Linked DNA regions of Homo sapiens: region 2 is linked to region 1. The links come from fine-mapping of genetic effects on gene expression. A gene starts in region 1. The other region holds a variant in brackets. All regions are shown on one strand. Distances are from middle to middle.

Evidence for each region. PIP is the estimated chance that this variant, and not a neighbour inherited with it, causes the effect. A credible set is the group of variants that fine-mapping cannot tell apart.
Region 2: its variant is the best candidate, but not a certain one, in a credible set for the expression of INO80E in whole blood (TOPMed, PIP 0.76).

The regions. Positions count from the first base shown.
Region 1 is chr16:29,994,730-29,997,635 of GRCh38, reverse strand. INO80E (INO80 complex subunit E) reads right to left here and starts at 1,395. Exons shown (of 7, transcript NM_173618.3): 1 at 1,245-1,395; 2 at 1,019-1,089; 3 at 776-828. The coding sequence starts at 1,325. HIRIP3 (HIRA interacting protein 3) reads left to right here and starts at 2,019. Exons shown (of 7, transcript NM_003609.5): 1 at 2,019-2,095; 2 at 2,173-2,293; 3 at 2,419-2,533; 4 at 2,793-2,906. The coding sequence starts at 2,031. RefSeq lists enhancers at 1,312-1,441, 1,502-1,671.
Region 2 is chr16:30,015,502-30,018,407 of GRCh38, reverse strand. It overlaps a transcript of DOC2A not described here. Among named protein-coding and RNA genes, the nearest start is that of DOC2A, 5.9 kb to the right of the region's middle. The variant A/G (reference allele first, on the strand shown) is at 1,507.

The DNA.
Region 1 (2,906 bases):
ATTACAGGTGCACGCCACCACACCCGACTAATTTTTGTATCTTTAGTAGAGACGAGGTTTCACCATGTTGGTCAGGCTGGTCTTGAACTCCCGACCTTGTGATCCGCCCACCTCGGCCTCCCAAAGTGTTGGGATTACAGGCGTGGGCCACTGCACCTGGCCAAGAATGGCTTTTAAGCTTTTAAACGGTTGGAAAAAAAAAAAACTAAAGAAAAATTTTTCATATGGAAAAATATGAAATTCAAATTTCAGTGCCTATAAAGTTTTATAGAAACATAGCCATACTCATGTATTTGCCTATGGGGTACGGCTGCTACTACAATGGCAGAGTTCAGTAGGTGCTTCAAAGATTGTATGTTGCAAAAAGCTTACTTACCATCTGGCCCTTTGCAGAAACAATTCATCAACCCCTGTTCTACTATAATCATTACCGCATAACTGTTTTCATTACCTTCAAGTCCTTCCTATGACCTAAAATTCTAGTCTATTGTCTTCATTTACTTATTCTTCCCAACTAGAATATAAATTACAAGAGGCCAAGGGCTTTGCCTATCTCTGCCTCTGCTGTATCCCCTGTGCCAAGCACAGTGCCTGAAACACAATAGGTGCTCAGTAAGTGCCTGAATGAAAGAACGGTGGAGGTGGAAGGCAAGCAACTAGGCTTAAGGACCACTGGGGGCTGCATCAGCCACCACTGCCTAAAAGGCGGGGGCCCAGGAAGCTTGCTAAGTACCAGGAACCATGCTCTCCACCAATTTTTGAAGACCTTGCTCACCCGAAGAGTCTTCATCCACGTTCTCGTACTGCAGAAGTCGGTCTAGGAGGAAACTGAGGGGAGGGAAGGAGACACGGACAGTGATTTTCCAGCGCAGCAATGTCCTCCTGGGTACCTGTCCCTCCCAGCTGGCCCATCGGATACTTGAAAGAGCCCATGCACTTGTGGCCCTACTCGGGGATGGGGTCCGAATGTAGATTTCCTAGGAAGCACATCGCCCTCCGCCCCTGCAACGTGCCTCACCTCTTGTCCCGGGACACCTTCAGTAATTTCCTTTGCGCTTTCCTCAGCTCCTCCTGGAAGCACTCGTGCTCCTGTATCACGGGCAAGGGGTGCGCTGGGCCAACGGTCCTCCGTGAAGGGCCCCGGAACCAGCGGCCGCTCGCCCCACCCACTTTACACCTGGGTAAACTGAGATCTTGTCCGCGCCAGGCCTCATCCCCCACAGCCTTCCCGCGGCAGCACTCACGTAGATGAGGAACTTGAGCTTCCGCTTCAGATTCCGGTATTTTTTTTTGTAGTCCACTTCGCCGTCCGCCGGCCCGTTCATGACCGGCCCGGGAGTGGCGCCCAGAGTCTGCCCTCCCGCTACCCCAAGCAGTGGCTGCCGTGCCGCTCCCGCCTCCACTTCCGGAGACGCTGCAAGGCTGTGCCGTCAGGACTACAACTCCCGGCGTACCCCGCGCTCAGGGGCGTCACCGCACGGGCCGACCTCCCGGGGGACACTGGGACAGGAGCGCGGCAGCCACTGCGCTGGGGATGGCGTAGCAGCGACGCGGTGACGCCACAAAAATGGCGGACGCTGGAAAGCGCCGTTCCTGACTCTAATGTACTTAGACACTTGAAGCCACAAAAGGATTTATCCCCGAGGTTCCTCATCTGCTCGCGAGGATGCCTTTTCTCTTCTGCCTTGCGAAATAACAGCAGCCTAGCTGTTGCCCGTGACCAGTGAGAAAGGCAGCGTCGCGGGCTGATTAGGTTTCACCCAAAGGGTGCCGGCGCCGAATTGGTTTCTAACGAGAACTTTTAAAATGATCCGTTCCAAAAAAGGGTAGGAGCCGCGAGACCCTCCAACTGCCCAGAGAAAACAAGTCTCGTCTGGCAAAGTTCTCGGCCCACGCGGTCCGCGGCCAAGGGCCAACGGTCCCTCGCCCCACGTTGCCGCAGCACTGCGCGTGCGCGAGCCGCTGTCAAACGCGCTGACGGAGGCCGAGAAGAAAAAAAGGCGGGAGCCGTCAATCCCGGGTTGAGCAAAATGGCGCGGGAGAAGGAGATGCAGGAGTTCACCCGTAGCTTCTTCCGAGGCCGCCCGGACCTCAGGTGCCCAGGGGGTTGGAGATGGGGTTGGAAAGGGCGCGGGTGGGTCGGGACTCCGTCCTGACACCATGTCCCTGCAGCACGCTTACGCATTCCATCGTGCGGCGGAGGTACTTAGCTCACTCGGGCCGCAGCCACCTGGAGCCCGAGGAGAAGCAGGCACTGAAGCGGCTGGTGGAGGAGGAGCTGCTGAAGATGCAGGTGTGCCGGGCCGGAGCCTGGGCCGCGGGAGGCGGAGGCGGGGCTTGCTGCTGAGGAGGAGGGGCCTGACGGGGCGCGGTGAGCGCAGCCTTGGTGCATAGTTTGCCCTCTTGGCGCACACACAGGTGGATGAAGCCGCTTCCAGGGAAGACAAACTGGACCTTACCAAGAAGGGCAAGAGGCCTCCCACCCCTTGTAGCGACCCGGAGAGAAAAAGGTTCCGCTTCAATTCAGAGTCGGGTTAGTGCTTCCTCCCTGCTGTGGGGGCCTTCTGCATCGTTGGTTCACTCAAGAAGCATTCACTGCGCATCTCTTATGTCCCCAGGCGTTAGATGAGGGAGCAAGGCTAGTGAGTCAGGAACCGGGAACAGCAAGTACAGATAGCTGTTTCCTGCTGCCCCTCCAACTGTCAGGGCAGGGCTCGAGGCAACCTATCCGAAGTGAAGGGAGAAGGGACAGGAGGAGCCTGTCTCAACCCTCTCTCCTCTCCATATTCCAGAGTCCGGCTCTGAAGCCTCCAGCCCAGACTACTTTGGACCCCCAGCAAAGAATGGGGTGGCAGCAGAAGTCAGCCCAGCCAAAGAGGAGAATCCAAGGCGAGCCTCAAAGGCAG
Region 2 (2,906 bases), 21 kb before region 1:
TCAAGGTTGAAGTGAGCCATGATCGTGCTGCTACACTCCAAGCTGGGTGACAGAGAATCCCATCTGTAAAAGATAAGAATAAAAAGATCTGTTGGTTCAATTTTCTTTCTTTCTTTTTTTTTTTTTTTGAGACAGCATCTCACTCTGTTGCCCAGGCTGGAGTGCAGTGGTGCAATCATAGCTCACTGCAGCATCGACCTCCCAGGCTCAAGCAATCCTCTCTCCTCAGCCTCCCAAGTAGCTGGGACTGCATCATCAAGTCATCATGCCCAGCTAAGTTTTTTTTTTTTTTTTTTTTTTTTTTGGTAGAAATAGGATTTCACTATGTTGCCCAGGCTGGTCTTGAACTCCGGGGCTCAAGGGATCCTCCTGCCTTGGCCTCCCAAAGTGCTGGGATTACAGCGCCCAGCCTCAATTTTCTTTTCTTTCTTTTTTTTTTTTTTTTCCGGAGACAGAGTCCCACTCTGTTGCCCAGGCTGGAGTGCAGTGGCACGATCTCAGCTCATTGCAACCTCCACCTCCCAGGTTCAAGTGATTCTTGTGCCTCAGCCTCCTGAGTAGCTGGGATTACAGACGCATGCCACCAAGCCCACTTAATTATTTTTGTATTTTTAGTAGAGATGGGGTTTCGCCATGTTGGCCAGGCTGGTCTCAAACTCCTGGCCTCAAGCAATCCGCCCACCTTGGCCTCCCAAAGTGCTGGGATTACAGGCATGAGCCACCGCACCCGGCAATAGGTAGTTTTTCGACTCTTTCCCTCCCTCCCCTTTTTTGGAGTCCCCAGTGTCTGTTATTCTCATCTTTATGTCCATAGGTACCCAATGTTTAGCTCCCACTTACGAGAACATGTGGTATTTGATTTTCTGTTTCCGCATTAATTCAGTTAGGATAATGGCCTCCAGCTGCATCCATGTTGCTGCAAGGGATATAATTTCATTCTTTTTTATGGCTGCATAGTATTCCATGGCATATACATATCACATTTTCTTTATCCAGTCCACTGTTGGTGGGCACCTAGATTGATTCTGTGTCTTTCCTATTGTGAACAGTGCTGCAATAAACACACAAGTGCAGGTGTCTTTTTGGTGGAATGATTTCTTTCTTTCTTTTTCTCTTTTTTTTTTTTTTTGAGACAGGGTCTCACTCTGTCACTCAGGCTGGAGTACAGTGGCTTGATCTTGGCTCACTGCAGCCTCAAACTCCTGGGCTCAAGCGATCATCCTGCCTCAGCCTCCCGAGTAGCTGGGACTACAAGTGCACACCACCACTCCTGGCTAATTTTTTTTTTTAGACAGGGTTTCGTCATGTTGACCAGGCTGGTAGAATGATTTCTTTTCTGAATATGCCGTACTCTGGACTGCCTCCCAGCTTTGGCACACACCTCTGCCTAGAATACACTTGCCCCCAAGCTTGACCTGGGTAACTCCTCCTCATCTTTCAGGTCTCAGTTGAGACAACTCCTTTTCTGGGAAGTGAGGTGTTAATCTTTGTTCCCTCCTACCTCAT[A/G]GGACCCTGAGTTCCCATGGCTTCTGACCATCCCCTGTCCCCACGTCAGTTTCCCTGGATGGGGATTGTCTGTGTATTTGTCTGTCTTCCCTATGAGGCTGTGAAGTCACAGCTCATTGACCTTGGGCCTGGTTGTATCCCCACAATCTATAGTCGATATTCAGTCAATATTTACTGAATGACTGGGTGACTGGTGCAAAAGCCTCCCGTCTCTGGACAAAGCAGGGCTCAGCACTGTCCATCATTTTCCTCTGAAATTGGCTTGAACTCCAGCCTCATCCTTACCTGTCTTCAACAAGTTCTTCTGGAGGCAGGCAGGGCTGGGGTTGAGCAAGCACCGTGGGAAGAGAGCACAGGAGAGAGGACTCGACAGGTTCCTTGACCAGAGTGTCCCCCTCCCCTCACTGCAGGCCCCCTGCGCCCAGGTCATGGACACCCTCTTGCTAAACTCACCGGCTTTCACACTGCACTGTGTCTCCCTTCGTCCTGCTTCCTTTCTTATTCTGGAGAGCCACGAAGGAAACCTAACGGTTGCCTTTACTTTAGAAATATTGGCCGGGTGCAGTGGCTCATGCCTGTAATCCCAGCACTTTGGGAGGCCAAGGCAGGCAGATCACTTGAGGTCAGGAGTTCGAGACCAGCCTGGCCAACATGGTGAAACCCTATCTCCACTAAAAATACAACAATTAGCCAGGCATGGTGGTGTGCACCTGTAATCCCAGCTACTTGGGAGGCTGAGGCTTGAACCTGGGAGGTGGAGGTTGCAGTGAGCCAAGATCGTGCCACTGCATTCCAGCCTGGGCAACAGAGCGAGACTCTGTCTAAAAAAAAAAAAAAAAAAAAAAATATATATATATATATATATATATATATATATATATTATTGTGCTGGGCATGGTCTTTGGCTCACACCTGTAATCCCAGCACTTTGGGAGGCCAAGGTAGGAGGATGGCTTGAGGCCAGGAGTTTGAAACCAGCCTGGGCACCATAGTAAGACCCATCTCTACAAAACAAACAAACAAACAAAAACAGATTAGCCAGGCATGGTGGTGCATACCTATAGTCCCAGCTACATGGGAGGCTAAAGTGGGAGGATCGCCTGAGCCCAAGAGTTCGAGGATGTCGTGAGCTATGATCTTGCCACTGCACTCCAGCCTAGGCAACACAGTGAGACCCTGTCTCAAAAAAAAAAAAAAAAAGAAAAAGGAAGGAAAGAAGGAAGGAAGAAAGGAAGGAAGGAAGGAAGGAAAGAAGAAAAGAAAGAAAAAGACAAGACCAAAATTTGGCCAGGCACAGTGGCTCATGCCTGTAATCTCAGCACTTTGGGAGGCCGAGGCAGGCGGATCACCTGAGGTCAGGAGTTCAAGATCAGCCTGGCCAACATGGTGAAAACCCATCT